3 linked regions of the Homo sapiens genome follow. The protein of the gene in region 1 purifies or fractionates together with the protein of each later gene. This does not show direct contact. Each region holds a gene or a part of one and is shown in the gene's direction. Other genes may lie near its edges.

Region 1 (3,655 bases):
CTCAGGATAAAAAACATAGTATTGGGGCAGTGGTGATTCTGACTCGGTCTTGTAGAATAGGAAAGGATATCCCAGTATATATTGGAAAACTGAATTGCCTTCCAAATGTGCTTTGTGTGTGCTGGAACTAGGTTAGCCTGGCTTTTACAGTGAACTTGCCTACAGTTTGCTGTTGGAAAGTTGGCGTAAGGTTTGCACTCATGTTATTCCGATGTACAGTTTTGGCTTTCTTGTTACTGAGTGGCAAAATTTATTGTATGCCTTATGCACATTTTGTGGTTGATGAAAATTTGGTTAAAAAGAATTATTGAAAATAGGGAATCGATTAACAATTGAATAACAATTCTACTTTTTATATAGTGCTTTAGTTTTATAGGTTTGGATAATCTTAAAAGACACATTTCTGAACACCAGCTCCAAGTGTTGATATCTGAAAGATCAAAATCCCTAAAGCCTAAGTTCCTAACATCTAAAATCCTGAAAATCACAAACACAGGGTAGTTGAATCATGTTTGGTGGAACCATTTTCTTGTTATTGTCTTTATTTGGAAATTAAGTATGGTTTAAGAAGATGTGCATGGTTGTCAAGTTGACAAGGGGTGGACTTGTGGACTTAATTTTACTTGTCAACTTGACTGTATTAAAGAATACCTAGAAATCTGGTAAGACATTATTTTGGGTGTGTCTGTGAAGGTGTTTCCAGAGGAAATGAGTGTGTGAGCCTGAGTGGATTTGGTGGGGAAGATCAACCCTCGGTGTTGGTGGGCAGCATCCAAACAGCTGGGGCCGGGATAGAACTATAATAATACAGAAAGCAAATTGGTCTTTCTCTGAGAGCTGGGACAGACTTTTCTTTTGCTGCCTTAGACATCAGAACTCCAGGCTTGCTGGACTTTAGACTCCAGAACTTACATCACTGATCCCCAGAATCCTGAGGCTTCTTCAGCCTGAGCCATGTTACCAACATCCAGTATAAATTGGAGGTATAAAATGTGTAGACTTTCAAAGAGTTCTAACTGATTTAATGTTTTTTTTTTTTTCAAATTTGACTCCACAAATGTACATTATCACAACATTGACTTTGTGTGTAAGCATTGTACATGTATATAAAAGCATTGAAACTTCCTCAGTAAATGAAGAGGTGTCCTTTTCATACATCTGCACTTGTGAAAGACAAAATTTCTCAAAATCTTGGCTCTTGTGGGTAGTGACTCGTTGTGTGTTTTGTTTTGTTTTTTTCCTGTCTCAGCCATTTTGGTTTTTGATCAATCTTGTCAAAAGACAAGAGGTTGTTCATCATAGTAATTCAGATGATTGCAGTTACGTAAAGCTGGGTGCACACAATTACCAATTAGAGAGATATATGTATACATTTCCCTTTTTGACCCTATTTCTCTATAAATATATTTCCTCTCATCTTAACTGTTATACCTCTGTGACTGTCATTAGTATACCTGAGTGTTTATGCTTACAAAAATATAGATTATCATTGGCTGTTTTTTTGTGTAAAGTGGCTTATGGAATGTTCTGTCATGTTGTTTATCAAATAAATCACCTTTTAAAAATGTAAATATCTTTAAAGATTAAAAAATTTTTTTTCCAGAATTATACTTTTAGGATTACAATGTTTAGGATTTCAGCTTTAGGGCTTCTGATCTTTTAGGATTTCAACATTAAGGATTAGGGAGTTCAGGACTGTATCTTTTGGGTATATGATTGGCTACCCTCCATTACCATCTTAACTGTTGATAGGATCAAGAAAGTAACCATTTTTGTATACTAAAAATTTAAGTGTGCTAACATCACCCAACTGATAAACAGTAGAGCCTGGAATTGAGCCCAGGTATTGTGGATCTGTAGCCCATGTCTTTAAACATGATATTCTAAACCTGCCACAACCTCACCTGTGGTAACCATTTCATGTATTATATTCTGTAACTCATGTTTGCTTACATATATCGTTTTATGCCGTGCATGCTCAACCATCCCATTATGTTCTTGTATTCTGAACAGAGAATTAATATTCTGGTTAATATGTTAGATATTGCCTATGCTTATTAATCTGTCTGTATTAGCTACTTATAGATCCTGCCATACCTCCCTATTTTTATGAATGCATCCTCTTTAGTTTCTGCATTGTTATAAAGAAATTAAAGTATCACTTCAAGCCATTGAAATCTATTGGTTGCCCAGCTTTCTAAAACAAGGCTAGGAAACTTAAATTTTATTTCAATAATATCTCTTGACGGTGATTGCCCTGTGGATTAAAATTTATATATATATATATATATATTAGCATTTTTGGTGTTCTTTTTATTTTACTCATACTATTTTTCTTTGGACTCAATCACAATAACAGAATTAAAGATCAAAGTGTAAAAGTTAAAGACCAGTACAGATTCAATAATTATTCTTTTCTACATACTGTGTTTAAATGATATCCCTTTTTCTTTTTGTTCTTTTTTTTTATTTTTTTAGTATTTATTGATCATTCTTGGGTGTTTCTCGGAGAGGGGGATTTGGCAGGGTCATAGGACAATAGTGGAGGGAAGGTCAGCAGATAAACATGTGAACAAAGGTCTCTGGTTTTCCTAGGCAGAGGGCCCTGCCGCCTTCCGCAGTGTTTGTGTCCCTGGGTACTTGAGATTAGGGAGTGGTGATGACTCTTAACGAGCATGCTGCCTTCAAGCATCTGTTTAACAAAGCACATCTTGCACCGCCCTTAATCCATTTAACCCTGAGTGGACACAGCACATGTTTCAGAGAGCAGGGGGTTGGGGGCAAGGTTATAGATTAACAGCATCCCAAGGCAGAAGAATTTTTCTTAGTATAGAACAAAATGGAATCTCCTATGTCTAATTCTTTCCAGACAGACACAGTAACAATCCGATCTCTCTTTCTTTTCCCCACACATCCCCCCTTTCTATTCGACAAAACCACCATCGTCATCATGGCCTGTTCTCAATGAGCTGTTGGGTACACCTCCCAGATGGGGTGGCGGCCGGGCAGAGGGGCTCCTCACTTCCCAGATGGGGCGGCCGGGCAGAGGCGCCCCCCACCTCCCAGACGGGGCAGCAGCCGGGCGGGGGCTGCCCCCCACCTCCCGGACGGGGCGGCTGCCGGGCGGAGGGGCTCCTCACTTCCCAGACGGGGCAGCTGCCGGGCAGAGGGGCTCCTCACTTCTCAGACTGGGCGGCCGGTCAGAGACGCTCCTCACCTCCCAGACGGGGTGGCGGCGGGGCAGAGACACTCCTCACTTCCTAGACAGGATGACGGCCGGCAGCCGGGAAGAGGCGCTCCTCACTTCCCAGACTGGGCGGCTGGGCAGAGGGGCTCCTCACATCCCAGACGATGGGCGGCCGGGCAGAGACGCTCCTCACTTCTTGTGGGGCGGGGTGGCGGCCGGGCAGAGGTTGCAATCTCGGCACTTTGGGAGGCCAAGGCAGGCGGCTGGGAGGTGGAGGTTGTAGCCAGCTGAGATCACACCACTGCACTCCAGCCTGGGCAACATTGAGCACTGAGTGAGCGAGACTCCGTCTGCAATCCCGGCACCTCGGGAGGCCGAGGCTGGCAGATCACTTGCGGTCAGGAGCTGGAGACCAGGCCAGCCAACATGGCGAAACCCCGTCTTCCCAAAAAATACAAAAACCAGTCA
Region 2 (3,755 bases), on another chromosome or scaffold:
ACAGAACAATCATCTTAGCACCCTTTCCTCACAATAATATAAAAATATTAAAAGAACATAGGCAGGCTTTTTTTAAATTTGGCTTTTTTCTTTCCTTTTTTCAAATTGACTTTTATAGGTATTTCCTGAAAGTGTATACAAATTATTTCCTCGCCCAAAATAAAGCACCACTTCAAGGTGTGGTTTGACATTACATGCTAATGAACAAACCCAGTATGCAAGTTATTCTTGCACCACATGCTCAAATCTTCTTGAGGTGCATTAACTCTTTTAGGTAACTAGAGCAGTACTTGGTGAACTAGATCAGGAGGTCAGTAAACTTTCTGTGGAAGGGCCAGAGAGTAAATATTTTAGGCTTTGCAGCCCATACGGTCTCTGTCACAGCTAGTCAACCCTGCCATTTTACCACAAAAGCAGCAATAGACATTATGTAAACAAATGAGCACAGTTATGTTCCAATAAAACTTTATTTACAAAAACAGATGACATCCCAGATGCAGACCATGGGCAACCAACCATTGCACTGGCCAAATCATTATTTATGGAGAAATCCTCTTTGTGTCTCTACTCTAGATGCCTAAAAGAGTTTATATACTTCTAAAAGCTCCTAACTTATATCCAAAGAATTGCTTTCTGATTCGTGTAGTCTCTCCCACAGATTCATAAACTTTTATGACTTATATTGTTTCCAGGTGGGCATGGTTTATTTCCCAGTTTAACAGTTCAGAATAGGGGCATTTATTTTATCATATTTTAGGGTGGGTTAGGAGTATCCTTTCTGGAGACTGAGAAAGGGGTGTATTTAATTCCATCAGGTCCAGTACAGTACTAGGAGTCATAATACTTTATAATCAATTAAATAAATAGAACCACTGAGACAATAATGTATTTTTTTAAAGTGGCAAATGTGGTTTTCTTTTTTCAGCCTTTGCGCTTTTTCAGTATTTTGACCATAGGGAGATAATTTTTTTATAATACAAAAGTAACCACTTGGAATTTTAAAGATAATGTTATGTGTGTATGTGAAATATATATACATATATATATATATGTTTATTTCCTAAAAGAAGAAAAGATACCTTTCTGTTCAACTTGTATCAACTCCTCTTTTCTAATTGCTGTGAAATGGCAACTGTTGATAAATTATTGTGATTGTTTTAAAATCTAATGGGAAGTAAAATATATTTTGATTTTACCCAGCTTAATCTGTAAAGTAGCACTTAAATATATCTGATAGCAACACTTAAGATATTGCATGGGGATTACTTTCCTATCATCCATATGCATTTGTGCAACTTCAAACATATTGGGTGCTTCTGAATTCCTGATGATTGGATTTAAGCTATTGAAAATTGGATAATTTAAACTTAATGATTTTTATAATTTTCTGATCTTAAAATTTGGTTAATGCCTATAATCTGTTGCTTTTTCTCAATATGTGTCCTATTGGAAATTCCTCAAATCGTTGGTGCCATCAGTGATTTACAAACAATATTTTGATATTGCAGATGACTTGCTTACTGTATTTGCATTGTTAGAAAACAGTTTGTAGACAATGATTCTTTTTTAATAAAATCAAATAATTCTAAAAGTGCTAGAGAATTTAACTAAAAGCTGGTTCCCAAATGCATAGCTGGCATTTTAATTTAAATTCAAATCTACATAGAGAACATCTGTGTAAATCATCTAACTGGATTTTTCCATTGGTCATTCCCAAACACACCTATGGTCCTAGAATCCTTAAGAGAAGCACCCTGTAACCTTTTATGTGGTTTGCCTTTAAGAGGCCCAGGTGCTTCTCCTTTATGATTTGAGTTGGCCTCTTCATAAATTAGTGCTGTTTACTTTCAGAGGAAGCAGAGAAGTTGCTGTTATGTTTTTGCATCCGTTTACCCTATGCAAAGTTGCTGTATGATGCCAACTAAACTACTCTTTAGGCAGCCTTCTGAGGAGAAAAGCAACCCTGTTTCAAATCCACTGCCAATTCAGCTCCTCTGGAGTGGAGCTTTCTGATTTCTTGGAGCAGGAATTTTAGAGATTGAAATGAATGATCATTTAGTCAGATTTATCCTGTAATTTCATGCAGCTTTGTGGCCTTTGCAGTACTATTTATAAAATGGACCCTGATGGTGATGAACTCTTTAGAACGCATTACTGTTAAGCCTGTGTTGAGACATTGATGCTGTCTATCTCATTTTTTAGACAGTTTTTGTAGCTTTCTATTGAGAGTCAGGTATGTGAGCATCTCTGAAGCAGTGTTGAATGTAATTTTCGGAAACATGGATTGTGTATTTTGACTTTTATTTTATAAATACACAGCTCAACAGTGCCTTTTTTTTCCCTCATAGTCCTGTTGGAAGATGCTCACTACTTTCTCTCTTCTCTCTCCCTGCCCTCCCCCACTCCATTCAGTTGATTCATTTATGCAAATTCTGTTTCCAACTTGAAACCATTTTGTCACATCTGTTGGAGAGATAATCACTCCTTTTCCTTAACATTCTGCCAGCTTTCTGATGTTGAAGTGTTTCAGTTGACTACCTGATGCAAAAGCTATAAAATAAACAGTGGGAAGGGGAAAAATTGGTGTCCTGTTTTAATATTTTCTTTTGTAGCCTTGACACTGATGGACATTTTCCAAGCTGACTCAGTGTTCAGTGTCAACTTAACTCTCAGATAGTGTTGCCATCAAGAAAGCATGCAACATCATTGGTTTCTAATGATTTTATGGCTTGTGACAATATTTTATCTGGACTGACATGCCTCTGCTGCTTTTGCTTTGTACTTCATTGCTGGTAATAAAATTTCAGATGGAAAACTTACAAAATATATACTTAATTAGAAGAAAAAAATAGAGAAAGGGCTATTAGAATTAAAAAAATTTGAAAGTAACTTAATCTAACATTTATGGCACAGTTTGGACATATCCATAATTTTTTTTGGGAACACACATTTCTGATTTTTTTTTTCCCCCTTAAAGAAGAAAGTCTCAATTCCATTGATTTTCAATTCTTAGCCACTGGCTCATTGCTTTGAGCAATGCTTGATTGATTCTATTTATATTATATGATATTGGGTTGATAAAATACCAGTTCAATGATGAGTTTTCTTAACAGAATTTGGTTTGTACTTGCAGTGGCTGAACAAAGAGCATGGCTTGAGAATCAAAGGGATCTGCATTTAGCAATGTGATGTCAGTAAATGGACATAACAGGATTGTTGTAAAGGTTGGGCATGATGTATGCAAAGTACTGGCCAGGGTAGACTAATAACTGATGGCATTTATATGCTGTGCTGGAATATTGTTACCAAGCTGATGTGCCGTTCTCACCCTGCAGAATACTGGTTTTGTCATTTCATAAATGATATTTTTATAAATATTTTTGAATGACTGTACTTTTTACTGATTATCTTAATACCGCCTCACTTATGTACCTGTAGCATAAATATTCCTGGTTCTGATTCTTGCTGTTCTTTCCACATACAAATCACTCATTTGTACAGATTAAAGGGGGGAAACGCTGACTGTTCTAAAGAAGATAGGACTTGCTTATTCCAGAAATGACTGAGTTCATATCTTAGTATATTTGAACAGTAAGGACTGCTAAATAGTACACACATAAAATTCAGGATCACAGGAATGAAATGATTTGCACTCTTTGAACAGAAAGGACAGCAGCAGTGTAAGGAATAGGCTCTCAAGCTAAAAACTGAGAACATGAAAACCTCTGAGGACCTGACTGCAGTTGTCAAGAAAA
Region 3 (3,615 bases), on another chromosome or scaffold:
AGGGGGATTCTTTGTTTTGAAGGATGAACCAAGATAACACATACAGTAACTCAGATGCCCTGTGTGTGTGCACGCATTAGCATGTGCATGCACGTGGCTGGAGGCAGCCACACAGACTGAAAGAATGTGAGCTTTGGAGTGATTCATTCACTTGGGTATTCATTCCACAAATCTTGCTCAGCTCCTAGCATGTGACCACCCATTCTGGACATGGGGATACAGGGGTGAACAGAAGAGACAAGATCTCTGCTCCATAGGAACTTGTGTTCTGGAGGGAAACAAACAATAAACAAGTAAACTAGGCCGAGACACGGGCTTCTAGGCCACTCCACCATGGAGCAACTGTATCACACTTGACCTCACTGAACCTGCCTCTGTCAGAGGAGGTGAGAACTGTCTTGAAGGGATGTCTGAAGACTTCAAGGGCCTCTCAGGGTTCTGGCACGTAGACACCGTGCTGCTGAGGGCAGGAGCTCTGTGGGGTTGAGACTCTTGTTTGCTAGGCATGAAGAGACAGGGAGAGAAGTGGGATGGAAAGAAGGCATTCAGAACTCACAGGCAGCCCCAGCGAGGAGAAGTCAAAGCTCCGTGCCCCTTCCAGCACAAAAGCAAGTCCATTGAACCGGTGGCTTTTTCTGTCATCTAGCTCCTAAAAACAAAAACAAAGGTAAATTCCTGGAGTTCAACCTAAGTGTTTTGGGTCAAAGGTGGGGTCAAAGGTGGGCTGTACAAGTGTTCATGAATTGGGAGGCCGGAGAAAAGACACTGAGGGTTTGCAGAGAGGGTCTTCTGTTCTGGAGTCTAGTTCTATTCAGTCTCTCTGAGAGGTAGGGTCTTTATCGTGTACTTGTGCAGTTTACAAAAATGTGACAAAGTTTCATAATGTAGGTTCACTCAGCCATTTAACAAATGTTAATGAAATGGGGAGCTGAAATGTAAAAGTGATAAAACTTCTGTGCCTTCAAGAATTTCCCAGTCGGTAAGGGAGACAGACATACAAATTACTATCATACAGGCCGGGCACGGTGGCCACGCCTGTAATCCCAGCCCTTTGGGAGGCCAAAGTGAGTGGATCACCTGAGGTCAGGAGTTCGAGACCAGCCTGACCAACATGGTGAAACACCATCTCTAATAAATACAAAAAATTAGCCAGGCGTGGTGCCATGCACCTGTAATCCCAGTTACTTGGGAGGATGAGGCAGGAGAACCGCTTGAACCCAAGAGGAGGAGGTTGCAGTGAGCCGAGATTGCACCACTGCACTCTAGCCTGGGCAACAAGAGTAAAACTCCATCTCAAAAAAGAAATAAATAAAATAAAATTACTTATCATACAGCATGAAGAGGCAGATCTCAGGCATCTTGGGAGTATGGAGGAAGGAGGAATCCTTGGTCATACTCCCAAGTATTGGCCAAGAGAGTTAAAGAAAATGTCAGCAAGAAGATGGCATTGGAGGTGATGTTTACATTGGGTTTTGAATGACCCCTGTGGGTAGTAGGAAAGATTCACGCTATCCGATAGTGGGCAGGATTTTATTCTCAGTACTTCTCTTGCTTTAATTCTCACAGTCAGTAGACAAGTAGACACAGTTGACCTTCGCATCTTCAATAGCCTTTCTTCCTTGTCACAGAACATGCAGGAAGAGCACATTGTGTACAGTTGCATAATATAGTTGGTCTAAACGTTAGTTAATTGGCTTTGACATTATTTCTGAGAGTCCTACAATCCAAATTATTAAAAAGGCACAGTAACGTTAAGAAAAGCCTGTCAGGAATCTGTTTTATGATACCCCAATGTAAGTGAGAAGCTCCGAATTTTGATAATATGATCAGTGTGGACTTGATTCTTTAAAAAAATATTGAAAATAATACATATATTTAGAAGACAAGACCAGGGAGAAAGAGAATACGCAAACTGAAAGAACCTATGAAACCGTTTTTTAAAAGGCAAGGTTGGTACTGAGCTTCCTAGAGGCTGAAGCAAAAATAGTTTAAAACCCCACTGTTGGTTATCTTACTCGTATCAGTGGGCTTGAGGGACATACTCTTCTCTCAATGGAGTACAAAAAAGGTTTTCTTGTTCCAAAAAAATTTTTTTCATGTGTATTTATATTCAAGAAAGATACAGCATTAAAGAATGTGGATCACAGTGAAAGTACAAATGAAACAGTAAATGTGGTTGTTAAGAGCACAGACTTTGATGTCAAGATTGACCCAAATTTACAATCTGGCTCTACAACTGGTTACAATGTTAAGCAAAGTTGCTACACCTCAGTTTCCTTTTCTGTCAATTGGGAGGTAAAAGTGCCAGTCACGGGGTTGAATCAGAAGGCCTTGGTGAAGAGATGCTGGTACAGTGTTGAATAGTTTCTGGCACCCAGTATCTGGAAGCTGTAGTGATGATTGCAGTGGGGTTCTTGTGTCTTCTTATGTTAAGAGGAGCCCCGTCTGTCATCCCAATCTGTGACCTACCTCAGAGGTGCTCGTGACCCACACACGCTTTTAAACCCAGGCCAGGGCATGAATGATGATGAAGGCAGCCCAGTGGAGAGCGAGGGATCCAAGGGGGAGGCGAACAAAGCAAACACCCCCTCACGCTGTGCCTGTCTTATTTCTTGAAGGTGAATGATTCCAATTGTGACCAAGAACTTCTTTCCCTGCTCCTGGATGCCAAGCTGCTGGTGAAGTGTGTCTCCACTCCCTTCTATCCACGTATTGTTGACCACCTCTTGGCTAGCCTCCAGCAAGGGCGCTGGGATGCAGAGGAGCTGGGCAGACACCTGCGGGAGGCCGGCCATGAAGCCGAAGCCGGGTCTCTCCTTCTGGCCGTGAGGGGGACTCACCAGGCCTTCAGAACCTTCAGTACAGCCCTCCGCGCAGCACAGCACTGGGTGTGAGGGCCACCTGTGGCCCTGCTCCTTAGCAGAAAAAGCATCTGGAGTTGAATGCTGTTCCCAGAAGCAACATGTGTATCTGCCGATTGTTCTCCATGGTTCCAACAAATTGCAAATAAAACTGTATGGAAACGATGAGCAAGCTGCCGCTTTTTTAACCTTTTTTTTCTTTCTTGTACTGAGTGGTGAACATATTTTCTTATTGATTAAGAGACTCTTCCTTCCCACCCTCCTTTTTTATTTCAACCTGCCTTTTCTGGATAGAATTCAGTTTATAATGTGTCCACAACTGTAGTTCAGCAAGTTGGATGTGCTGGTGGATGGGGTGGCATTAGGAAGGGAGGGAGTGTGCAGAATGCCTGGCGGTCAAGGCAGGTGTCATGGGTGGAGGGAGGGTGGACCTGGACTCAAGTTTCAGATTAGTTAAATGACCTCGGGCAAATTCTTCCACCTCTTTGAACCTATGTCTATTTTGTAGAAAAATAAGGGTGGTATTATTTGTCTCGTAAAGTTGATAAGTATTATGTGGGGTTGTGTGTGTGAGGCTCTATCAGATACACAGCCGGAGCTGAAGAAATATTAACTCTCTGTCCCACTCACTAGTGTCACAGTATATGAATTATGACCTTCAGGGCATAGCCAGATGATCAGGACCAATACATGATTGCTGTCTGATTAGAGGGCTTCAAAATTTATCAGCATCGACATGTTCAGGTTGACACAT

What was found.
Region 2: the proteins of SCFD2 (region 1) and HS2ST1 purify together in Homo sapiens (affinity purification with mass spectrometry; one large-scale study listed by BioGRID and IntAct). This does not show direct contact.
Region 3: the proteins of SCFD2 (region 1) and NBAS purify together in Homo sapiens (affinity purification with mass spectrometry; 2 studies listed by BioGRID and IntAct, with this or other methods). This does not show direct contact.

What each region holds. Positions count from the first base shown.
Region 1 is NC_000004.12:53,139,031-53,142,685, reverse strand, and holds part of SCFD2 (sec1 family domain-containing protein 2), read left to right. Parts: intron 1-3,655. UniProt on the Homo sapiens protein: May be involved in protein transport.
Region 2 is NC_000001.11:87,106,606-87,110,360, forward strand, and holds the end of HS2ST1 (heparan sulfate 2-O-sulfotransferase 1), read left to right. Parts: 3' UTR 1-3,377; downstream 3,378-3,755. UniProt on the Homo sapiens protein: Catalyzes the transfer of a sulfo group from 3'-phospho-5'-adenylyl sulfate (PAPS) to the 2-OH position of iduronic acid (IdoA) or glucuronic acid (GlcA) within the heparan sulfate (HS) chain and participates in HS biosynthesis.
Region 3 is NC_000002.12:15,166,327-15,169,941, reverse strand, and holds the end of NBAS (NBAS subunit of NRZ tethering complex), read left to right. Parts: intron 1-2,618; coding exon 2,619-2,894; 3' UTR 2,895-3,026; downstream 3,027-3,615. UniProt on the Homo sapiens protein: Involved in Golgi-to-endoplasmic reticulum (ER) retrograde transport; the function is proposed to depend on its association in the NRZ complex which is believed to play a role in SNARE assembly at the ER. Required for normal embryonic development.